Linked DNA regions of Homo sapiens. The protein of the gene in region 3 interacts with the protein of the main gene of each other region in a pairwise test. Each region holds a gene or a part of one and is shown on either strand. Other genes may lie near its edges. The genes, in order: TBC1D25, BORA, FEZ1, PTH, DIS3L2, ZNF251 and COL9A2.

Region 1 (3,500 bases), on a different chromosome or scaffold from region 3:
TGAGATGAAGTCTCGCTCTGTCACCCAGGCTGGAGTGCAGTGGCAAGATCTTGGCTCACTGCAACCTCTGCTTTTCGGGTTCAAGCGATTCTCATGCCTCAGCCTCCCGAGTAGCTGGGATTATAGGCATGTGCCACTACACCCGGCTAATTTTTGTATTTTTTTTAGTAGAGACAGGGTTTCACCATGTTGGCCAGGATGGTCTCGAACTCCTGACTTCAGGTGATCCGCCTGCCTCAGCCTCCCAAAGTGCTGGGACTACAGGCATGAGCCACCGTGCCCAGCGGATTTGGGCTCTTATAAAGAGGTTGAGGGTGTGGGTTCACTCTCTTCTGCTCTTCTGTCATGTGAGGATGCAGCAAGAAAGCCCTCACTAGACACACAACCTGCCAGCACCTTGATCTTGGACTTCCCAGTCTCCAAAACTGTGAGAAATAAATTTCTCTTCTTTACAAATTCCTCAGTCTGTGGTATTCTGTTATAGTAGCACAAAACGACTAAGACACACACCCAGGAAATTTAATACTGATACAATTATCTAATGTATGGTCTGTAATCAAATTTTGAGACCACGTCCTAATTTATCTGTGTGCTCGCAGGGACCAGAATAGGCAAGAGTGGAAGAACAAAGATGAGAAGAGAAAAAGTGGCTGAGAGGTCAAGGGAACAAATGAATGAGTGAGCAAGAATACAAACAAATGAATATGGGTGCAGAATGACTGAATGAATAAACACAACTAGCATTATTATAATACGCATTGTTATATTTAGGTATTATAACTGAAATACATAATGCTAAAGCTATACCGTTATACTATATTATAAATCTGCATTATATCTAATTATTACATACATTACTCGGTTATATGTTATAATAGTATAATACAATATAATTATCATTATTAGAGATAACACTTTCTGAGCCTTCATTATGCAGTCATGCACTGTTCCAGGCATTTTATATGAATTTCCCCTCACAATGGTTCTAAGATACAAGGCCTCACAATGGTTCTAAGATACAATTATCTCTTTACAAGTGAAGAAATTGTGGCCTAGTGGCTGAGCCAGGATCTATAGCTAGGATACCTTGCTACCCATCCCACCATGAGGGAGTGTACTGTGAGGGGTAGCATCACCCTATGGGGTAAAGGGGTTCCAGAGCAGTGCTCCTGGGGGCACTGAGTACTCACTGTCCTCCGAGGGCCGAATATCTACACGCAATTGCAGGTAAGGTTTGGAGGCAGTGGCAAAGGCTGTGCTGAGGTCCCAGTCAGATAGAAGTGAGAGGTAAACTTCCTGTCCTAGCCGGTCCCGGCCCAGGTAGCTGATGCCAAAGTTCTTCTTCCTGGACAGGGGATACGAGGGAGCTCTCAGGGCCCCTGGTGCCCTGGAGGCCTCAGGGACAGTTTCCAAAACAAGGAGGGTAATATAGAAGGCGTTGAAAACAACTTCCTACTATGTGCAAGGTACTGTGCCAAGGATTATGGGCAGCCTGAGATCAGGTCATTTATACCCACTTTGTTACACAAACACATACAAGCAGGTACACACCTGCTTGTATCTGGAGGTCACATTGGAAACTGGTAAAATGTTGGCCGGGTGCAGTGGCTCACGCCTATAATCTCCGCACTTTGGGAGGCCGAGGTGGGTGGATCACCTGAGGTCAGGAGTTTGAGACTAGCCTGGTCAACATGGTGAAACCCCTTCTGTACTAAAAATACAAAAAAAATTAGCTGGGTGTGGTGGCAGGTGCCTGTAATCCCAGCTACTCAGGAGGCTGAGGCAGGAGAATCGCTTGAACCTGGGAGGTGGAGGTTGCAGTGAGCCAAGATTGTGGCATTGCACTCCAACCTGGGTGACAGAGCAAGACTCCATCTCAAAAAAAAAAAAAAAAGTTGGTCCCCTCTGGGGTAGATGTGGGACAGAAGTGGGAAGAAAGCAGCCTTCTTACTACATAAAAAAAAAGCAATCTGTGTTTGTTATTTTTCACAACAAAAATGTTTATGTAAGAAAGTCTAATAACAACTAAGAATTTTTCAGCTATACTTGTGCAACTATGTAAAGAAGTTTGTTGCGTGATGCTCATCATAACCATGGAAACATCCTAAATACCCAACAATTGTGTACTGTTTGAATTTCTTACCATGTGTATGTATTCCTCCAAAATCACAACAAAATGACTATCACATCTGCCCCCAAGAGACACCACTTTTCAGCTATCAGATTGGCAAATTTTGCAGTTTTACAGTAACCAATGTTTGCGAGGGTGTGAGGGAAACAGGCATTTATGTGCTGCTGATGAGATCATAAATTCGTTTTTTTTTTTTTTTGAGACGGAGTCTCACTCTGTCGCCCAGTCTGGAGTGCAATGGTGCGATCTCGGCTCGCTGCAAGCTCCGCCTCCCGGGCCCATGCCATTCTCCTGCCTCAGCCTCCCAAGTAGCTGGGACTACAGGCGCCCACCACCACGCCTGGAGAATTTTTTGTATTTTTAGTAGAGACGGAGTTTCACCGTGTTAGCCAGGATGGTCTTGATCTCCTGACCTCGTGATCCACCTGCCTCAGCCTCCCAAAGTGCTGGGATTACAGGCATGAGCCACAGCGCCCGGCTGAGATCATAAATTGATAAAACCTGTCTGGAGAGCATTTTGGAAACACCCATTAATAGTTCAAAAAGCAGGCCAGGTGCGGTGGCTCATGCCTGTAATCCCAGCACTTTGGGAGGCTGAGGCGGGTGGATCACGAGGTCAGGAGATCGAGACGATCCTGGCCAACACGGTGAAACCCCATCTCTACTAAAAATACAAAAATTAGCCGGGCATGGTGGCGCACGCCTGTAGTACCAGCTACTCAGGAGGCCGAGGCAGGAGAATTGCTTGAACTCAGGAGGTGGAGGTTGCAATGAGACGAGATCACACCACTGCACTCCAGCCTGGACGACAGAATGAGACTGTCTCAAAAAAAAAATTTTTTTTAAAGCAAATACCCTTTTACCTGGCAATACCACTGCTAGGAATTTATCCTATGACTAGATGTTTCCAAATACAGTAGTCCCTCTTTATCTACAGGGGATACATTCCAAGACCCCCCCGAGTGGATGCCTGAAACTGCAGATAGTACCAAGCCCTATATATACTATGTTTTTTTTCATATACATACATACCTATGATAAGGTTTAATTGATAAATTAGGCACAGTAAGAGATTAACAATAATAGAACAATTATGACAATACAGATGCTTCTTGACTTATGACAGGGTTATGTACCAATAAACTCATCGTAAGTTGGAAATACTGTAAGTTGACAATGCATTTGGCTGGGCGCAGTGGCTCACCTGTAATCCCAGCACTTTGAGAGGCTGAGGCGGGCGGATTGCTTGAGCTCAGGAGTTTGAGACTGCCCTGGGCAACATGGCGAAACCCTGTCTCTACTAAAGATACAAAAAATTGGCCGGGTGCGGAGGCTCACGTGCCTGTAATCCTAACACTTTGGGAGGCCG
Region 2 (2,387 bases), on a different chromosome or scaffold from region 3:
AATGGTAACAAACAAGGGGGACTGAGAATGATGAGGGAAGGGCTAAAGTGCTGGGCCCAGATGTCAAGGAATGTTATCACAGGGCACAACTGTTGCCAATTGAAAGTTTTAAAAGACAATGACATCTGATTTATGTGGTAGAAAAATAAATTTAGTAACAAAGTGCATGTTAAATGACTGACATAGAGACACCATTTAAAGGCACCATGACCCAACTGGAATATAAAGTTTGCAATTAGAACCAAGTTTGAATTAGAGTTCTTTTATTTCCAGGCTGTGGGATCTTAAGGCAAGATTTACATAGCAGTGAATAGAACATGACTTTTTAATTTTTGTCCCCTCATCCTTCTTAGCTATAAAGTGAGATTGATGCCTGCCTTGATGCCTGTGGGGGATAACAAGGTATCTGTTGCCTGGTTGGTACATATTAGGCATTGACATTAGCAGAAGTCTAGATGAGAGACAGTGAAGTCAGCCACCATCTCAACTTGGCTCTCATCAATCCTGCTCTTCCCATAGTGTGGGACAAACTCCCCGCATGCCTTACTTCCTGCTGTACTAATGAGTAACTCTTCCCTCCATATATATCCAGTTACATATTAGTATTGCATTATAAGCCAGCTATTTGGCAGTGATGAATATTAGAAGGAAGAGCTATTGGCAGAATCTCTGGGAGCAATCTGACATTTATATTTTTGATCAAGTAGCTATTGAATGATAGCAGAACAAGGCTTTTCCCCAAAAATGTTACACATCACAAGGCTTTTGTTCTAATTGGAACATGACCTCTAGTAGTAAGCAGATATGTATCCAGCCTTGAAATCTGGGAACATTTTTTCAGGATTATTAAGTGATAAAGAGTGCCGTTTCTAGGCTAGTCTGTACCTTTGTGAGGGAAACAAAATGACAGTCAGCTTTTTCCTTCCCTCTGATCCTAACTTGCAGGGAGGGCTTAAATGCAAAATGATTCCCTTGTGGATTGCTTTCTTTGGTGCTCAGCATTATACAGGTAAATGGAGCGTTGTGCAGTGAACAGAACCTGGACTTAGGTCTCACATCTTCATCACCTCATCACTGGATGACATTGTGAAAGTTAAGCTTTTTAAGCCTTAATTTCCTTCTCTAGTAAAGTATTAGGGTTGTTGAAAGGAGAAAAAAATATTAAATATATAGAGATAGTGCCTGGCCTTTTTAGACACTCAATAAATGTTTCCAAGCTGGAAGTTCGCTAGAATCTTTCTTTTTTGCTCTTTTGCACTGAAACAGTGTATCTTAGGATGCTACAATTTTTATTAACATGAAAAGCTGAACTAACATCTAGAGCCATTATATATGTGGCATTATTGTGAACAACTAGGTGTAAATATAATATAATCCACTTTTTTAAAGGCAGCATGCCTCAAGCCATTTAGAGACAAGCCTGGAAAATGCGTTGGAAGGTGAAGTTAGTTGTAATACTCATTTTTGTCTACTAGGTACGATCACAAAATAACAGGAAAGCATTGTGTCAGTAGGCTGTTCACTGATTCTTAAGGAAGTTACAAGATATATTTCATTGGAAGGAATTGTAAAATGACTACAATAATCAGTACTATGCAGGACTACCTTTTATATTTGTGCATTACTTTTGAATTTTGTTCAACATGATCAATATTACATGTTAGGATCATTCAGATGTAGTGAATGAGAGTTTATAGTGGTTTACTTATTTAAATATTTGACTTTTAAGTTCCTCACAATATATTTTTTTCTTTTTTCTCCTGTCAGATGGATAGTGGCTATAATACGCAGAATTGTGGAAGCAATATTATGGATACAGTTGGGGCAGAAAGTTACTGCAAAGAAAGTGATGCACAAACATGTGAAGTTGAGAGTAAATCTCAAGCATTTAATATGAAGGTACGGAGAAAATATAGTGAAAGCTTAATATTGTTTAGATTAGAAATATAAAATAATTTTGATTATTAGACAATAGTACTATTGAGAAACTATATGAAATTTAAAACACTAAAAGGTAAGCCTGTTTTCTTAACATCCAATAACCTTTAAATATTTTGGTTACTCTGAATACACAAGTATCTTACATACTACAAAGTGTGCAAAGGTAGCGTGTATTTGATGAGGGCATTTACTGAACCTTCCAGGTGGTGGTTATATATTCATACTTGAAGAAACTCATCATAATTTCAGGCACTAGTCAGGACAGTCTTTAATTTTATGTGCCAATTTTTTTTGCATTTTATTTTTTTGTAGAGACAGGGCCTGCTGTGTTGCCCAGGCTGGTCTCAAACTCCTGGTGTCAAGCAGTCTTTCTGCCTCAGCCTCGCAAAGTGCTGCGCGATTACAGGCATGAGCCAACATGCCCAGCCTTGTATGCCGTTTCTTTT
Region 3 (3,500 bases):
ACTCTTTGAGGTGGTTTCTTCACAGTGGGCTGGACCAAAGGTAAGGGGTTTCAGGGTCTCCTCCTTTAGAATAATTTCCATTCTTATTCCCAAACCTTTTCACCTCTACTCACAAACTTAGGAAATACCCAGTCTTTGACTACTGAAAGCCATTTTACAGAATGCAACCAAATGACACAAGTCCCTGTCAGGGTCTTATGGCTGAATGTCCTTTTCTCTAAGAGGAGTTATAATTGAGTTCATATCATTGAATTGTAGATCCTCCTACAAGTCACAAGAATAGCTATTAGCCCCTATTTTTAAAAATCTGGTTCTCTTCAGTCTCCTAATCCTCACGTGTTTCAATTCCCACCTTTCTATCACAGATATGAAAAAGCACCATTGCTGCTAAAAAAGCACTTTCTGGCACCGAAGGCTGCCAGTGGAGCTTTGCAGAAAGACTTTGTGGAAACTTATGTAGTGTTTAGCTCAAAATAAGCACCCATAAATATTTGTTGACTAAAACATTAAATAAGGAATCCAGAAACTGAACATTATCCTCTCTAAGTAATAAATTATTAAAGCTATGATGATCTCAATTGAATGCGAAGCACTCTATCTTTTTTCACAAAGTCGAAGTGGCTCTAAGACTCCTTTCGGAAGGCCCAAAATTTTGAGTGTTCTATGAAATGTAAGAAAATATCCATCACACAAAAGCCTCATCTGTCACTTCTCTTTTTGGGAAAACAGGTATTTGGGACCCTTGTTTGAGTGTCTTGACTCCGAGTACAACGAATTTCAATAAGAAGGCTTAGCAGGATTGTAGCTACTAAACACTATGCCTGTCTCTGGCTCCTATCAGAGACTGACCCCAACTATCCCAAGTGTCAAGAATGACATTCATGTTCACTGCAGGTGGGCAACCTGAGGCAGAAAGAGAGATGAAATCCCTTATCAAAAATACTCTGAGTTGGACAGTCACCGTGGCTCATGCCTGTAATCCCAGCACTTTGGGAGGCCAAGGCGGGTGGACTGCTTGAGTCCAGGAGTTTGAGACCAGCCTGGGCAGCATGGTGAAACCTCATCTCCACTAAAAGTACAGAAAATTAGCTGGGCATAGTGATGCATGCCTGTAGTCCCAGCTACTTAGGGGCCTGAGGCGGGAGGATCGCTTGAGCCAAGGAGGTTGAGGCTATAGTGAACCCTGATTTTGCCACTGCACTCTGGCCTGGGTGACAAAGTGAGACCCTGTCTCAAAATGAAAAAAAAAAAAGGTCAGGCACAGTGGCTCATGCCTATAATCCCAGCACTTTGGGAGGTTGAGGTGGGCAGATCACTTGAGGTTAGGAGTTTGAGACCAGCCTGGCCAACATGGTGAAATCACATCTCTACCAAAAAATTTTTTATAAGAATTAGCCAGGCATGGTGGTGCATGCCTGTAGTCCCAGCTACTCGGGAGGCTGAGGCAGGAAAGTCACTTGAATCCGGGAGGCAGAGGTTGCAATGAGCCAAGATCACGCCACTGCACTCCAGCCTGGGCAACAGAGCAAGACTCTGTCTCAAAAGTATATATATATAAAGAAAAAAAAGAAACAAAAAATACTCTGAGTCATGAGCACAGGCACCACATGACCACATATCTTTCTTCTGCCTTAAATGGATGTGGCAAGTGTGTTCTCTTGGACTTTTTCTCCATCAAAAGAACAAAAGGTCCCGATAACCTGGAGAGATACTTATACCTGATCTGCTGTGAGCAGAGGCTCCTCGTTGATACCGGAATCATTTTCACTCTTCTCATTGAACTCTTCCTCTTCTTTCTCATGGATCTGGAGAGGAGGTGGGGAGATGGAATTCTGGGTGACCATCAGCAGAAGTGGGATTGCCTCTAGTCTCGAGAATGGATGATACTGACTGGGAGGCCACTCCAGCCAGCTGCTGTCTAAACAGTGGAGCTGAAGAGGTGTCCAGAGTTTCATCCAATTCCAAACATATCTTTGCCCCATCACTAACTCCAGCATGCCAGAAATCCAGCATGCAGCACTGAATCCAACTTGGCAGGAAAAGACGACAGGGGAATGGCCAGCACCATTCTGACTCAAAGGGGACAGCACCGTTTTTTAACCCACAGACAGGTCATCCTGGGGTGAACAAGGCGCCTTCTCCAGGTAAGTGACACTGCAGCCAACTGCAGCAAAGGTGCCCTGATTTTGTTAAGGAGTTCCAACCTGGGGGGTTGTTTCCAGATTTCGTCTTACTAGGCATTTTAAGGAATAGGTTGTTCTAGTCCAAATAATGATGACTTTCAGAATTTGATGAAATGCCATCCTGTTACTGGAATCCAGGCATGATGTCATAGCTGATGGCAGATGTAAGAAATCTGCATGGGACATGCCACTGAATAACCTGACCACATGAACTAAACAACAACAAAACTACAAAAGAGAACCCCATTTATCTCATTTGCCCTGTGTCTCTATAATTCCATAATCCCAAGTAAGATCCTCAAAGTTCACAGCCATCAAAATTCTAGATGTTTAAATCTAACAAGCTATTCAAAGCATATCTGGCTTAACTGACCATATCCCAAACTGCCATAGTCTGGCATTTACATTCAAGTCCCACAGAAAAGTTAATCACTAAACACCTAACAAGCTGTATGTCTAGAAGTCTGATTTGAACGTCATACAAGGAGGAGGCAGGAGGTGTCTCTAGGAAATCTCTCTGCTGAGTCACCTCTCATCCAGGAATGAATCCTCCTTGCGCTCCAGTAGCTGGCACACCGATTGGCCCCTTCCCTGGGGCTTGTATTCTGCCTTTTCTAACAGGAAACAGCCCAGCTCCAATCCAAGCAATAATGTCAGAGGTAGTCTATCCTCAGAAACTTCTCCCGTCTTCTGTGAGCTTTGCCTTGGCAGACATCCCTAACAGAGCACATCACCTTTTATCTCCATTTGCTTAAAACCAGGACTATGTCATTAAAAAAGAAAAAAAAAATTAAGCAAATATATCTCAAATGCCATCCGCACTCAACCTAGATATGGGGTAGGACAGGGAGGTAATGGAATCATCTGAAGGGCCCGGGTACCAGATGGTGACATCTATTTCCGCTGTCAAACCCATATGCTCCTCTCTCTGCCAAGTCCACCACCTGCGATAGCCTCGTGGTTTCCACCGCTCCCCACTATGCAGAACAAAACTCCTGGAGCTACGCTTTGTTCACAACTACACTCATATGGAAGAACTTTCTTCAGGCCAGAAAATCCTGCAGTAGAAGTTAGCCCAAAATTAAGAGAACGAAGATACATTTTTTCCTCCAGACAAAAATTAGGGGAGAAAAAGGAAGAAATGTATCAATATGAACCCAGCCCAAGTTAGTGTGAGCCCAAGTTAGGCTCATCCTGGGAAACAGGGTTATTTTTCATAAGCATCTAACAGCAACTGTTAGTCTATAACCAGGATTTGGCAGGGGGTAGGGGGTGGTGGGCACTAAGTCTATATAAAAATGGCATGTTTACCTTTTC
Region 4 (4,151 bases), about 110 Mb from region 3:
CCTGGAGCAACACTCTAAGTGAGGTTAACCCAGAGTGGAGAATCTCCTAGGACAGGACTAGTATATATCTCTCATTATAAACTCCATACGGTTACTATTCAAATTTGTACTGGCTCTTACCTAAGGTAGAGTCAAACCTTGACAATGGCTAGTAGGAAAAAGGATGACATGAAGCCAGGATGGGACCAGAGCTGAGAGAACTGATCCCACTCTGGCACCGGATCTTTGGTGGGAAGGCAAAGCTGTCTAAAGGAGTCCTAGATATATCAAAGACATTCAGGGTGTTTTGACAGGTGGACCAGGAAAATATTGCTGGAGGAATATTTGAAGTCAGACATGTGGCAGCATCATGCCTCCAATAGGTTTTGGAGCAGGCTCTCATCATCCCTTAGGGAACATGAGAATAAAGACCTAACCCCTAGGGGAAAATGTTGCAAAGAGCTTTTGCTGTGTTTTCAGATGACTTTGCAAATTAAAGTCAAGAAGACTGGAGTTCAAAGAAGGGCTGTATTTCTAGGCAGAAACTGAGGTAGTAAGAATCTGGTGTCATAAAGACCTTTGTTGAATTCCATCTTTTCTGCTTTCCAAGCCTAAGTTTCCTCATGTAAAAATGGGGATAAGCACTTAACTTTAGTACTTTAAGTACTAACTTTAAAGGACTGCTGTGAAGATCTAGTGGGATAATATATGTAGTTAGGCATGCAGTTAGTGCTTATCAAATGTTATTATTATAGATTAAGATGCACAAATAAAATATAAGTTAAATAAATTTTAAAATAATTTCACTTTTGAAGCTTTTAAAGTAATTATGTACTAAGAGCATTTTCTCAAATTATTCTTAACACTTCCTTTAAGAAAAGGGCTATATCTGTTTTTTGAAAGATGACCAGAAGTGACATGGATTGGTTGAAAATGGCTTGTAAAGTAAGCCTAACATTTATGATTTATTACCATAAAAACTGTACCAACAGTACGGTTATAACAAATACACTTATTTTTGGGTTTTATTTTCAAGTAAGATAATGACTTTATCATAAACCTTTGAAATCAGTCTTTTTACAGTATAAATTCAGATTCATTAATCCACATAGAATTTTTCTCGATGGTATAATTCTGTATTTGTTAAAAGTCTTTGCATAAGCCCCTTGTCAAGCCAAATGCTGTTTTCCTTTTAGTATCCAATTATCTGAAACTTAAGAAGAGTGTGCACCGCCCAATGGGTGTGTGTATGTGCTGCTTTGAACCTATAGTTGAGATCCAGAGAATTGGGAGTGACATCATCTGTAACAATAAAAGAGCCTCTCTTGGTAAGCAGAAGACCTATATATAAAAGTCACCATTTAAGGGGTCTGCAGTCCAATTCATCAGTTGTCTTTAGTTTACTCAGCATCAGCTACTAACATACCTGAACGAAGATCTTGTTCTAAGACATTGTATGGTAAGTAAACTTAAAAATTCACTTCTGAATCTCATGAGATTTTGATAATCAAGTTATTATTTAATGTGTACCATTTCTACAAATACCATGTTGTTTCTTCAAGGTAAAATGCTAAGAAGTTTGAGTTATGTTTAATATAAAATGCCACATACAAAATAAATTAATGCTACTCAAATCACAAAATCCTTTTTGATTAAAGTCTTCTGAGATACCTTGCCTTTTAAAACCTCATCTGAAATTACAACAAAAAATCATTAAAATTTGGCATGCTATGCTTTAATATAATAGTATCGGTGTCAAAATTTTGAAATAAAACAGGTTGATGGTGAATGAATAGTTCTGATTTAAATAATCTTTATAAATTTATTAAGTGGAGTTAATATTCTGTTTTTCCTGCAGAGTATTCTTATCTAGATTATTTATTTTATGGCTCATAAAGAGCCCAATCTGTATACTAAAGTTGGATAAGCCCAGTTTGACTAGTAAATATTTATTTCCTTTACATAAATGACAGCTGTATTCTGAAAACAGTATTTCCTATGCTATTTCTAAATGATGCAGTTTCCCTGTAAAATAGGAGTACATAACTACTCTATGTGTATGTTAAAAGGTAGTACACTGAGCATTAAGGAAAAGCACTTCTATAATAACAGCCTTTGCAAGTACTGAAATGCAGATTAAGGCAAGAATATCCTATACTGATGTGAAACGAGGAAAGAGACAAAAGTTATATTAAAAGATAATTGTTAATAAAATAAGTTGAAGAAATAAGCTACAAACAAGCATTCCATTCAGAGATAAAGCTCGAAATCCATATCACAAGTAATTAATCAGATGATTTTTAAATGCTTTGACACATTATTTTTAATGCTAGGAGAAATGTGAATTAATTTAGTGAAAATCTCTAGATTAGCACCTATTAGTTTGGTATTTATGGTTATTACAATGCCTGAAATGAAGGTTACTTAAGAAAAGGATTTGCTACGTAAATAGTGTTAACAATTTACACTATGAAGAAAATTAGGCATTTTCAAGCAAGTTATAAACATTTAGGTATAATCAACATAAAATGCAGTGCGGGGGGATTTCTCAAAAATAGGCTCTTTCATTCCTCTTGTAGCTTAAGATTTCTGCAGTGTGACAGAAGGGAGCATGAGAAGCATGGCTCACCAGCCAGCCTCTATTGTCTATGTAATTAGAAGCTTCAGAACTCACTAATACCACTGTACCTTTCACTGGCGCATTACCCCATAAAACTTGAGATGAGGTGAGATCTGAGTATAAAGATAGGTCAGAAGTATTTTAAAGGGCTTAATTTGCCAAAAAGAAAAGTAAAAAGCTAGAGACCCTTTTTGCAGAACATTTGGTGACCACACATTTGAGGGAAGATGTGGCATTAGATGAAGCAGAAGCAAACCCTGCTCTTAGGGGCTCATCTAGGTGAGTGCACAGCCTGTGACACTACAGGGAGAGGCTCAGTAAACTGAGATCCAGCATTCTGTATGACAGAGGCATTGCTTATCACAGAGGTTCTGAATTTTAAGTAGGAAGTACATAATGAAGAGGGCTTTAAAAATTGCTAAGAAAGCGAGTCACCAGGGCTGGCAGTAGTGTAACAGGGCCATCCTGAGCTGTTAGGAGAGTAGATGCAGGGAGGGCTGGTGACCTCCGTGGGTTTATCTGTTGGAGACTCTTCTCTCCAAATCCCAGGCCTGGCTTCCAGCACCATCCAGCTGTGCCCAAGAAGCCACGCTGGTCTGTTCTCCAAGTCTTTTAAATGGTGCCTAATTTTTCTAAGTGAGCTTAGCAATGAGAAGAAAAAAAAAACATGAATTATTTTTCTGGAAAATCAAGGAGACATGGGTAACAACAGGCACTAATAAATATTTATAGATGAGTGAATGAGGAAATAATTACATAAAAAAGGTCAGTGACAATTGATAAATGACAAGGAAATATTTAATTAGGTAAAAGTAAACCATTGCTCTCTATACTAGGATAGACTTTATCTACTTCGTCTTTTCCTAAGTCAGCATGTTAATTCTGGGGGAGGATCATAAGAAAGGAAATACTTTTTTAAAAAAAATTTAAAAACATGTAACAAAGCAAGGGTAAAATATATGTATATACATAAGTGGTATGACTGTAAAACTGTACTTTCCATTAGTTATTAGCTGAGTTAAGAGAATGATCACGTTGAAGTACTGTGTGGACTAGAAATGTACTCTGTCATCATGCAATGAAATGTTGCTAACATTTTAACATAGCTCATTTATGCAGAATGAATTCTGGCAGTTTACCCCAAGTCACAGTTAGGACGGTAGATGGTGAGATCGCAGATGCGTGATTATCTAGATTCAGTGTTACATTTTTGATGTTTATCACTCAGTGGATTTTTATTAATATGCTGATTAAGTTATTTACTTGGCCAGTCATTGTGCTAAATAGTTGCTCTTTTGTGTTTCATTGCCTTGATGTTTGAGTGTAATCTAGCATTTTAATACAGTGTTTATTTTGCATGATCTTTAACAAATGTTTTAAGCAATTTTAAAAAGGCAGGATGTTATTGACATTATACATTGAAGTCTTAACATTTTAATATTTATAGTGCTTATTAGTTTGCAAAATTGTATAATTAGGAATTATTTCAGAGACAATGTTTTCTTTTTCAGGTGAGTAGTTGCCGCTTAATATCATTGGAGTACATTCTTTA
Region 5 (3,500 bases), on a different chromosome or scaffold from region 3:
GGCAGGAGAATGGTATGAACCTGGGAGGCGAAGCTTGCAGTGAGCCAAGATCATGCCACTGCACTCCAGCCTGGGTGACAGAGCAAGACTCTGTCTCAAAAAAAAAAAAAAAAAATCAGTTATCTGGGATAGGGATCAGGGAGCCAGGGGTATGAAAACAGCTTTGGGCATAATAGATATGATCAATGTCCTGTTTGTGATGATAGTCTTACAAGTACACACATATGTCAAAACTTAACAAACTGTACACTTTAGAGTTTATAACCTGTCAACTATACCTCAATAAATCAGTCTTAAATCAATCAAATAAATTTTTTAAATAAATCAAAAAAATATGGTCTTAACCAATAATAATCCTACACAACACAAATTGGGCCCTAATTCATTTATTAAAAATTGTTTTTTGTTAATAAGACATATTTCAGTCATAAAACTTATAAGGCATCCTTACTTGCAAACTATTATAAAAGACTGATTTGAACTGGCAAAAATTCAGTGAAACATAAAGAAAATAAATGCATTATTTCAACAAAAAAATCTCAGAACAATTCTTTTTTTCATTTACAAAACTTAACTAAAATTAAAAAGAAACATGTAAATTTCTGACCTTGTTTAATACTGTGCCATAAGTAAAAGGATTAAACAAAAATAATAATAGCTCCTTCTTGGTATAACTGTTGCTAGAGTTTTGCATTCAACCTTTTAAAAGTGATTAAAGCTAACAGTGGCAGACATCAGAGAAAAAGGCAACTATTTCCCATGTGGAAAGCTGGTCCCTAAAAAAATGAAGTTAAACAGAAATGTTTGGGGCTTCTCTCTGAATCCCTCAGCATCTAGATAATCACCACAAACTTCTCCTCACCAAAGCCTAATGGGAAATAGAAACAATCCAATTTCATTAGAGGAGGACCAAAAAGGAACTTATAATGCAGAATTCTTCAATTAGCATTATATAACTTCCTGCCTCATCCGGTTTGGGTCACACAACCTCTCCGTGTCTACCAGACACTCCACCAATACTTTACTGAGGGCAGGGTACTTCATCAGCCCTTCTCCCCTCATGATTTCATCAGAGATAATTTCAAGGTACTTTGCACCACATGAAGTCCCTTCCTACCAGTGTGACCAGTGTCTCATCTGTCATCATTAGTACATCCCAGAGGCAGCCTGTTATTAGGGCAAGAAAGAAATCAAAAGTAGGTGGACTAACAGTTGACTAAACTTCATCAAGTCTTGCCTCAACATAACTGGTCACGTAATAACTACTCTAAGGCATCAAGTTCTTGCTATGGTTCCAAATAAAATACCTTCTATACGAAAAACCCTTCAAATCCTTCTACTTCATGTTACATGACAAAAAGGAGCATCTTCTGCCATTCTACCACCACTCTCAGTTTAATAAAGACAACAAGATTTCTGGGATGGGCACAGTGATTCATGCCTGTAACTCCAATATTTGAGAGGCTGAGGCAGGAGGATCACTTGAGGCCAAGAGTTTCAGACAAGCCTGAGCAACATAGCAAGACCCTGTCTCCACAAAAAAAAAAAAAAAAAAAAAAAAAAAAAAAAAATGTTTTTTAACTAGCTGGGCATGGTGGCTCATGCCTGTAGACCCAGCTACTCAAGAGGCTCAGGTGGGAAGATCACTCGAGCCTGGGAGTTCAAGGTTACAGTGAGCTATGATCACACTACTGCACTCCAGCCTGGGCAGCAGAGTGAGATTCTGTCTCAAAAAGGCCAGGCACAGTGGCTCAGTGGCTCACGTCTGTAATCCCAGCACTTTGGGAGGGCAAGGCGGGTGGATTGCTTGAGGTCAGGAGTTTGAGACCAGCCTGGCCAACATGGTGAAACCCCGTCTCTACTTAAAATACAAAAAATTAGCCAGGCGTGGTGGCGTGAGCTTGTAGTCCCAGCTACTCACGAGGCTGAGGCTGGAGAATCACTTCAGCCCACAAGGCGGAGGTTGCAGTAAGCTGAGATCGTGCCACTGCACTCCAGCCTGGGCAACAGAGTAAGTCTCTGTCTCAAAAAAAAAAAAAAAGAAGAAGAAGAAGAATTCTGGTCAAGTCTCCACTCCCTGACATCAGCAAAAATGGTATCGATGGCCAGACCTCAGAGGGATCTATCCACTCATTCCAGGCCCAGTTTTACTTTTACTCATGCTCAATAGCATTTCATGAAACTCCTTCTGTAAAACAAAAACTTTTTGAAGGATAAAATAAAAGGACAGGCTGGGCATGGTGGCTTACATCTATAATCCCAGAACTTCGGGAGGTTGAAGCAGGAGGATCGCCTGAGCCCAGAAGGTCGAGGCCACAGTAAGCCGTGATCTCACCACTGCACTCCAGCCAGGGCAACATGGACGTGGCATCAGAGGGTCTGCTTTGATTAGAGCACTGTTCTCTTCCTGTGCATCTTGTAGACATCAGTTAAAATGTCATTTCAGTGATTTCTCTAAAACACTTGTCACAGCCATAGTTTTGCATTTGTGTGATTATTTGAGTATCATCTGCTGAGGACAGAGATCATATGTGCATTCACTCTCCCCCATCTCCAAGGCCAAGCATAGTGCCTGGTACCAAGTAAGCACTCAAATATTATATTTGATGATTAAGTGAATAAATGAACACTAAGTCTATAAGAAAGCAACAAAACATCTTTTAAGAGGACTTAAAAGTTTGATCATCTTCACAAATGTATCTTTGGTGGATGCCCAAAGCAACTGAGTCCCCTTATTAAACATTAAACTCAAAAAAAAAAAAAAAGTCAATTCAGATGTCTACATAAATTGCTCTGGCCTTCAATGTCTCAAGGCAAATGCTGAGCATCAAAGGCTGATAGGCTAAACACACACACTCTCCTTATGTAAAGCATACCTACTGGTTGCTAAGTAACAGTTGTTTTTGGTAATTCCTGATACTACCGCTGCTACATAGGAAGCACTTCAGAAATACCAGTCAAATAAAAAAGAGCAACATTTCACAAGACTCTTGAGCATGAATGAAACAGTAACTACTTAAACTGTGGTGTTTCATATAAACCTAACACCAAATGCAGAAGCAAAGAAACTCTAAGTGGCAAAGCCCTCAGCTAGTAACTTCACTATTTTAGATGTCAAACAGGAAAAATGTCATATAGATTTGTACTAAGACTATTTGAAAGAAATAGGTCACAAATCAAGTGACCTGAAAGCATTAAATAAGAACTTCGAAATGCCACATGGAACTATTTCCCAAACTCTTAAGAATATAAGGAAAGGAATTAGGACTTCCTGTCCTCTCCAATACAAATACAAATTATATCTGTACTTTAGAGACAAATCAAGTCCCATTTAATCCAGAAATGATTTCTCCACCCTCTGACCTACTACAGCACTTAATATCCGTACCACATATTTTGCATTTAAACAAATGTCCATTTCATTGCTTTCCTAATAATTTCATGTGTGCACTTTTCTTTTATATCCTTTAAAGTGTATAATGCTGTAGATGCTTAATAAA
Region 6 (3,500 bases), on a different chromosome or scaffold from region 3:
CAGAATAACCTGCTGAGTTTTTTTCGTTTTTTAGAGACAGGGTCTTGCTCTGTCAGCCAGGCTGGAATACAGTGGCATGATCATAACTTACTGAAACCTCAGACTCCTAGGCTCAAGCAGTCCTCCCACCTCAGCCTCCCAAATAGCTGGGAATATAGGCACATGCCACCAGGCCTAGCTAACAAAAAAAATTTTTTTGTAGATATGGGGTCTCACTATGTTGCCTAGGCTGGTCTTAAACTCCTGGGCTTAAGCGATCCTCCTGCCTTAGCCTCCCAAAGTGCTGGATTATAGGCATAAACCACCACACTTAGCCCCTGAGACTGTGATTGAGATTGTGTTGAATCTGTAAATCAAGCAGAGGACTGACATCATGATAATACTGAGTTTTCCTCATGAACAGACTATCTCTTCATTTATTTAGCTCTTCTTTGATATATTTTTATCAGTCTTGTATTTTTCCTCACAGATTTTGTACATATTTTGTTAGACTTACACCTCAGTATTTTATCTTTAGTGGTGCTAATGTAAATAATGTGTTTTTAACTTCAAATTCCACTTCTTCGTTGCCAGTATAAAGGAAAATGTAGATTTTCTGTAGATGCTCTCTATCAACTTGAGGAAGTTCCTCTCTATTCCTAGTTTGTTGAATTTGTAATCATGAATCGAGGTTGGATTTTGTCAAATGCTTTCTCCGCATCTACTGATATGACCACATGATCTTTCTTCAGCCTGTTGATGTGGTACATCACATTACATTAATTTATTTCCTAATGTTGGACCAGCCTTGTAAACCTGGGACAAATCCCACTTGGTCATGGTATATAATTCTTTTTATACATTGTTGGATTTGATTTGCTAATATTTTGTTGGGATTTTTGCATTTATGTTCATAAGAGGTGTCTGTCTGTAGTTTCCTTTTCTTGTAATGTCTGTTTGGTTTTGGCATTTGGGTGGATAACACTGACCTCATATGAGTTAGGAAGTATTCCCTCTGTTTTTATTTTCTGGAAGAGATTATAGAGAACTGGTATAATTTCTTCCTTAAATGTTTGGTAGAAGTCATAAGTGAACCCATCTGAGCCCAGTGGATTCTATTTTGGAAGGTAATTGTTGATTTGACTTATTTAACAGACATAGCCCTATTCAGATTGTCTATTTCTTCCCGTGTTTGGGAGATTGTGTACTTCAAGGAATTGGTTCATTTATCAAATTTGGGCACAGAGTTGTTCATCTTTTTTTTTTTATTACCCTTTAAAAGTCTGTGGGACATCTCTGTAGTGATGTTCCCTCTTTCATTTGATATTAGTATTTTGTGTCCTCTCTCTTCTTTGTCTTAGTCTGGCTAAAGGTTTACTGATTTTATTGTTTTTTCAAACCATCTTCTGGTTTCGTTGATTTTCTCTATTGATTTCCTGTTTTCCATTTCATTGATTTCTGCTTGAATTTTTATTTCTTTTCTTCTGCTTACTTTGTATTTAATTTGCTCTTCTTTTTCTAGTTTCCTAGAGTGAAAGCTTACATTATGATTTTAGATCTTTCCCATTTTCTAATACATGCAGTCAATGCTATAAATTTCCCTCTAAGCACTGCATTCACAGCATTCCACAAATTTTGGTAAGTTTTATTTTCATTTTCACTTAATTCAAAATATTCTAAAATTTATCTTGAGATATCTTCTTTGACTCGTGTTATTTGGAAGTGTGTTATTTGCCAAGTACTTTAGGATTTTCTAGCTATCTTTCTGGTTTCATTTCTAGTTTCATGTCATTGTGGTCTGAGAATAGACATTCTATGTTTTCTATTCTTCAAGTATGTTAAAGTGTTTTGTGGCCCAGAATGTGGTCTATCTTAGTGAATGTTCCACATGAGCTTGGCAGGAATGTGCATTCTGCTATCGTTGGATGAAGCAGTCTACAGATGTAAATTATTCCCAGCTGACTGATGTGATGGTGCTGTTAAACTCAACTGCATCCTGCTGGATCTGTCCATTTACGATAGAGGGTGCTGGATCTCCAACTGCAGACAGTGAACTCATCTATTTCCCCTTGTAGTTCTATCAGTTTTCGCATCACATATTTTGTTGTTGTTGTTTTTTGAGACGGAGTCTCGCTCTGTTGCCCAGGCTGGAGTGCGATGGCGCGAATCTCGGCTGACTGCAACCTCTGCCTCCTGGGTTCAAGCAATTCTCCTGCCTCAGCCTCCCGAGTAGCTGAGATTACAGGCATGAGCCACCACGCCCGGCTAATTTTGTATTTTTAGTAGAGATGGGGTTTCTCCATGTTGGTCAGGCTGGTCTCGAACTCCTGACCTCAGGTGATCCACCCGCCTCGGCCTCCCAAAGTGCTGGGATTACAGGCGTGAGCCACCGTGTCCAGCTGGTTTTGTGGTTTTTAGAGATAGTGTCTCACTCAGTTGCCCAGCCTGGAGCGCAGTGACGTGATCATAGCTCACCGCAGCTTCAATGTCCTGGGCTCAAGCGATCTGCCCTTCCTGGCCTTCCAGAGTGCTGGGATTACAGGCATGACTACCACACTTGACAACCTCACTTTTTTTTTTTGAGATGGAGTCTCACTCTGTCGCCCAGGCTGCAGTGCAATGGTGCAATCTTGGCTCACTGCAACCTCCATCTCCCAGGTTCAAGTGATTCTCCTGTCTTAGTCTCTTGAGTAGGGGGGATTACAGGTGCACTCCACCATGCCTGGCTAATTTTTGTGTTTTTAGTAGAGATGGGGTTTCATCATGTTGGCCAGGCTAGTCTTGAACTCCTGACCTCAAGTTATCTGCCCGCCTCGGCCTCCCAGTGCTGGGATTACAGGTGTTAGCCACTGTGCCTGGCCAACCTCACATATTTTGATGCTGTTGTTAGGCCCATACACCTCAAGATCTGTTATGTTTTGTGTCTAAAGTAGTAAGATATTTCCGCTTTCTTTGGATTACTATCTTTCTCCATCCCTTTTGTGTTTTTATGTTTAAAGTGGGCTTCTTTTCTTTTTTTTTGTTCATGGCAAGATCTTGTCATGAGACAGCAGGTTTCTTTTTTCTTTGCAATGGGGTCTTGCTCTGTTGCCCAGGCTGCAGAGCAGTGGTGCAATCACAGCTCACTACAACCTCAACTTCCTGGGCTCAAGCGATCCTACCACATCAGCCTCTTGAGTAGCTGAGACTTATAGGTACACAACACCACACCAAGCTAATTTTTTTAACTTTTTGATGAGATGATTTCTCACTATGTTGTTTAGGCTGGTCTCAAACTCCCAGGCTCAAGGGATCCTCCCACCTCGGCCTCCCAAAGTGCTGGAATTACAGGAGCCATCACTCCTGGCCGAAGCAGGTTCCTTATAGAAAACACAGTTGGGGCCAGGCACTGTGGCCTGTAATACCAGTGCTTTAGGAGGCCAAAGCAGGAGGACTGCTTGAGGCTCAAGAGTTTGAGACCAACCTGGGCAAAATAGTGAGACCTGATCTCTACAAAAATAAAAAAAGAGCTGGATGTGGTG
Region 7 (3,500 bases), on a different chromosome or scaffold from region 3:
TTCCATCTCTGTTTTCAAGGGACCCAAGGGCGAGCCTGGCAAAGCTGGGCCAGATGGGCCAGACGGGAAGCCCGGGATTGATGTGAGTAGCTGAGTGTCGGGTGGGGCAGGGTAGGGCTCTGCCAATTGACCTCCAGGGCCTGGCTCTGGCATCTTCACTGATCTGTTCAGAGATGGGCAGCAGGATGGAGATTCTCCAGCTGTGAGCCCCCCTCACCTTGATATGACTTGTGACCTTCCTGGAACCTCACTCTCACCCAGGGTCATTGATTTGCAGGCAACCGGGGTCCAGAGAGAGGGTCTGCTTTCTGGGAGGTGCAGGTTCCTCCTGCTACCCCTCAGCAGTCAGGACTTAGTCTCACATTTCTGGCCTCCAAGGATCAGGCTGAATATGTTGGGTGGGGCTGTCCTTGTGTGCCCTGTCCTTTCCTCCGCTCTTCCCCTGACCCCTACCCACAGCCCCAGGCATGACTCAGGAGAGAAACATCATTTAGCTGATACCACAGAGCTCCCAGGGGGCCCCCAAGGTCACAGGCTCTTGAACACAGCCAGCCCCAGGGGCATGAGGACAACATCTGATGGGGGTTACACTGGGTCAGTCACTGAAAGATGGGAGAAAGGAGAAACCCCCATGACTTGCCTCTGCCCTGCTGGCTCATGAGGTGTGACCAGGGCTGGGACAGTCACCAGGACCCCTTCAAACTCATCCACACCCTGCAACGATTACAAGGCATATTGCCTTCTATGTTGCATCAGTTCTCACATCCACCCAGAGAGGCACCCAGATGAGAAACTAAGGCTCAGAAAAAGTTGCCAATGGCCTGGCGTGGTGGCTTATGCCTGTAATCCCAGCACTTTGGGAGGCCGAGGTGGGCAGATTACTTGAGGTCAGGAGCTCAAGACCAGCCTGGCCAACATGGCGAAACCCCATCTCTACTAAAAATACAAAAATTACCCAAGCGTGGTGGCGCATGCCCCTGGTCCTAGCTACTTGGGAGGCTGGGGCACAAGAATCATTTGAACCCAGGAAGCGGGGGTTGCAGTGAGCTGAGACTGTGCCACTGCACTCCAGCCTGAGCAACAGAGTGAGACTGTGTCTCAATTGAAAAAAAAAAGAAAGAAAAAGAAAAGAGAAAGGAAAGAAAAGAAAAGAAAATGAAAAAGTTGTCAAGGTAGGACATCAAGCAAATGACCAATCTTGACCCATGGCTAGGTCTTCTAGACTCCTGAACCCGGAGGCATGAAGCCTGGGTCTGGCATAAAGCCAAATCTTTGGGCTTTGGTTTCTCATCTTTCAAAAGAAGGGAATTGTTCTGCCTGCCTCCTAGGGTTACTATGGGAACTGGGGAAAAGGAAAGAAAGGTGTGGAGGTTCCTAGGCCTTCATGAGGTGTGGCAAAAAGGAGCCTCGGCCCACCCAGGAGGGACCCTTGAACCTGCCCTGCTCTGTGGGTCAGGGAGCAGGTTGGCCCTCATTGATCCTACATTTTCATTCTTCCCCAGGGTTTAACTGGAGCCAAGGGGGAGCCTGGCCCCATGGGGATCCCTGGAGTCAAGGTAAGGGGCCTGCTGGGGCCTCAGCGTGGGCAATCTAGGGCCAGCGTTTGGGAGTGGCTGTAGAGAGGAAGTAGGAGCCGGGGAAACCCCAGCCTCTGAGCCTTTCTCGTTGCTTCTGCAGGGCCAGCCCGGGCTTCCTGGTCCTCCTGGCCTTCCGGTGAGTACAACCTGCAAGGGCTTCGAGGGACTCTTGGGGGAGAGGGGACCTGCAGAGGGAGCCATGAAGCCAATTTTCTTTCTTTCTGTTCCAGGGCCCTGGTTTTGCTGGACCTCCTGTAAGTCCTCAGGGATGGGGCAGGATCCCCAGAACTCCCAGGGAAGGAGGGGACAACAGAAAGGCTTCGAGGGAATGGCCACCATGGGAAGGAGCCAGCTTGCTGTGATAGTGTCAGGAATAAGTGGACCTGCCAGAGACCCAGGGCCAGCCCACTCTGGGCCTGTCCACTGGCTCTGCAATTCTCTGGTCCTTAAAGCCTCAGTCTGTCAGTCTCTCTGGGGTTGGCAAAAAAAAAAAAAAAGTAAAAGTGGAGAAACGGGCTTTGGGTGCCTGTCTCTACCTTTGTGCCCAGGGTATCTGACCCTCTGAGGCATCCTGACCATCAACTCTCTGCTCCCCAGGGGCCTCCTGGACCTGTTGGCCTCCCTGGTGAGATTGGAATCCGAGGCCCCAAGGTGAGCCTCAGCCACCCTCTGTTCACTGCCTCCTGCCTTCTATCTCCAAGCTGGCAAGCTGGGTGGTCTTTCTGGAAGTTCCTGGGCCTGCTCCTGGCCACTGGGAAACTCCTCCAGGTCTGGGGCAGAAACCCCTCCTATGAGCCCACCCGGCACTAGGTCTTTTAGGGACGCCGCTGGCCCCATCCCCTGTCAATCAGGCCTTCATCTCCCAAGATGGTGGATCTCACAAAGTGACCGGGAAGACAGGGTGGAGAGGGCAGAGGCAGGACCTGGAGGAGGGCACTAGGGTAAGCTGGTAAGGGCTGGTCAGGGGTATGATTTGGGCTTCTTTTGCTTCCAGGGGGACCCTGGACCAGATGGACCATCGGGGCCCCCAGGACCCCCTGGGAAACCTGTAAGTGTCCCCAGACCCCCGACATGGCAAAGTGCAGGGGAAGGAGAAGGGTCTTTGAGCAAGCCTGCGGCGGGAAAGGGTCAGGCCAAGCTCCATCTTCATGTCTCCTCTCAGGGTCGCCCGGGAACCATCCAGGGTCTGGAAGGCAGTGCGGATTTCCTGGTGAGAGACGAGGTCTGGGGCGGGGCTAACACAGGGGGGCGGGGCCACAGAGATGGGGAGGCGGGGCCACGGAGATGGGGGTGTCTGGAGAGATGGGGAGGGGCTGCAGTGCAGGGGTTCCACCAGGTGAGGCGGAGGAGAGCACGGGGCTTGGAGAGATGGGGGCGCACTGCCCAGCTGATCACAGGACCCTGTGGGATTTTCTGTTTCCAGTGTCCAACCAACTGTCCACCCGGAATGAAAGGTCCCCCAGGGCTGCAGGGAGTGAAGGTGAGAGCTCCTGGCCTGAATCTTGGGAGGGTGGTGCAGGTGACAGGAGGGGACCTCGTATTGAGCTCTCTCCTTCCCTTCAGGGGCATGCGGGCAAACGCGGGATTCTGGGTGATCCTGGCCACCAGGGGAAGCCGGTGAGTGCAAGGGCTGAGGGCTGTGGGTCAGGGATACGTGGAGATGGTCCTACAGGGCTCTGTCCCCTTCTTCGTCCCTTCCCCTTCCCCTGTGGGTTCTGGGGACAGAGCCTTGAGCCGGGGGCTGGAGGCCTGTGCTCCAGGTCGGCATGTCTCTGGTCATGTCTCCTTGCTTGGCTTTTCTCTATCTGTAACACAGGACTGTAGGGTTCGTAGTAGTCCCTCCCGTCTGCTTGTGCTGGGGAAAAGAGGTGGTATCTTTGCTTGTCTGTATATGTGTCTTTCCATCTGCCTGCCTGTCTGACA

The links.
Region 1: the proteins of FEZ1 (region 3) and TBC1D25 interact in a two-hybrid assay, tested with the Homo sapiens proteins (one study listed by BioGRID).
Region 2: the proteins of FEZ1 (region 3) and BORA interact in a two-hybrid assay, tested with the Homo sapiens proteins (one large-scale study listed by BioGRID and IntAct).
Region 4: the proteins of FEZ1 (region 3) and PTH interact in a two-hybrid assay, tested with the Homo sapiens proteins (one large-scale study listed by BioGRID and IntAct).
Region 5: the proteins of FEZ1 (region 3) and DIS3L2 interact in a two-hybrid assay, tested with the Homo sapiens proteins (one large-scale study listed by BioGRID and IntAct).
Region 6: the proteins of FEZ1 (region 3) and ZNF251 interact in a two-hybrid assay, tested with the Homo sapiens proteins (one study listed by BioGRID).
Region 7: the proteins of FEZ1 (region 3) and COL9A2 interact in a two-hybrid assay, tested with the Homo sapiens proteins (one large-scale study listed by BioGRID and IntAct).

The regions. Positions count from the first base shown.
Region 1 is NC_000023.11:48,542,714-48,546,213, reverse strand, and holds part of TBC1D25 (TBC1 domain family member 25), read right to left. Parts: intron 1,346-3,500; coding exon 1,191-1,345; intron 1-1,190. UniProt on the Homo sapiens protein: Acts as a GTPase-activating protein specific for RAB33B. Involved in the regulation of autophagosome maturation, the process in which autophagosomes fuse with endosomes and lysosomes.
Region 2 is NC_000013.11:72,751,923-72,754,309, forward strand, and holds part of BORA (protein aurora borealis), read left to right. Parts: intron 1-246; exon of another isoform or gene 247-1,767; coding exon 1,768-1,899; exon of another isoform or gene 1,900-2,387. UniProt on the Homo sapiens protein: Required for the activation of AURKA at the onset of mitosis.
Region 3 is NC_000011.10:125,461,766-125,465,265, forward strand, and holds part of FEZ1 (fasciculation and elongation protein zeta-1), read right to left. Parts: intron 1,806-3,500; coding exon 1,719-1,805; intron 1-1,718. UniProt on the Homo sapiens protein: May be involved in axonal outgrowth as component of the network of molecules that regulate cellular morphology and axon guidance machinery.
Region 4 is NC_000011.10:13,493,198-13,497,348, reverse strand, and holds the start of PTH (parathyroid hormone isoform 1 preproprotein), read left to right. Parts: upstream 1-1,351; 5' UTR 1,352-1,438; intron 1,439-4,151. UniProt on the Homo sapiens protein: Parathyroid hormone elevates calcium level by dissolving the salts in bone and preventing their renal excretion. Acts by binding to its receptor, PTH1R, activating G protein-coupled receptor signaling.
Region 5 is NC_000002.12:231,964,713-231,968,212, reverse strand, and holds part of DIS3L2 (DIS3-like exonuclease 2), read right to left. Parts: intron 1-3,500.
Region 6 is NC_000008.11:144,745,532-144,749,031, forward strand, and holds part of ZNF251 (zinc finger protein 251), read right to left. Parts: intron 1-3,500. UniProt on the Homo sapiens protein: May be involved in transcriptional regulation.
Region 7 is NC_000001.11:40,310,787-40,314,286, reverse strand, and holds part of COL9A2 (collagen alpha-2(IX) chain precursor), read left to right. Parts: intron 1-19; coding exon 20-82; intron 83-1,502; coding exon 1,503-1,556; intron 1,557-1,677; coding exon 1,678-1,713; intron 1,714-1,807; coding exon 1,808-1,831; intron 1,832-2,174; coding exon 2,175-2,228; intron 2,229-2,571; coding exon 2,572-2,625; intron 2,626-2,739; coding exon 2,740-2,787; coding exon of another isoform or gene 2,788-2,799; intron 2,800-3,000; coding exon 3,001-3,057; intron 3,058-3,140; coding exon 3,141-3,194; intron 3,195-3,500. UniProt on the Homo sapiens protein: Structural component of hyaline cartilage and vitreous of the eye.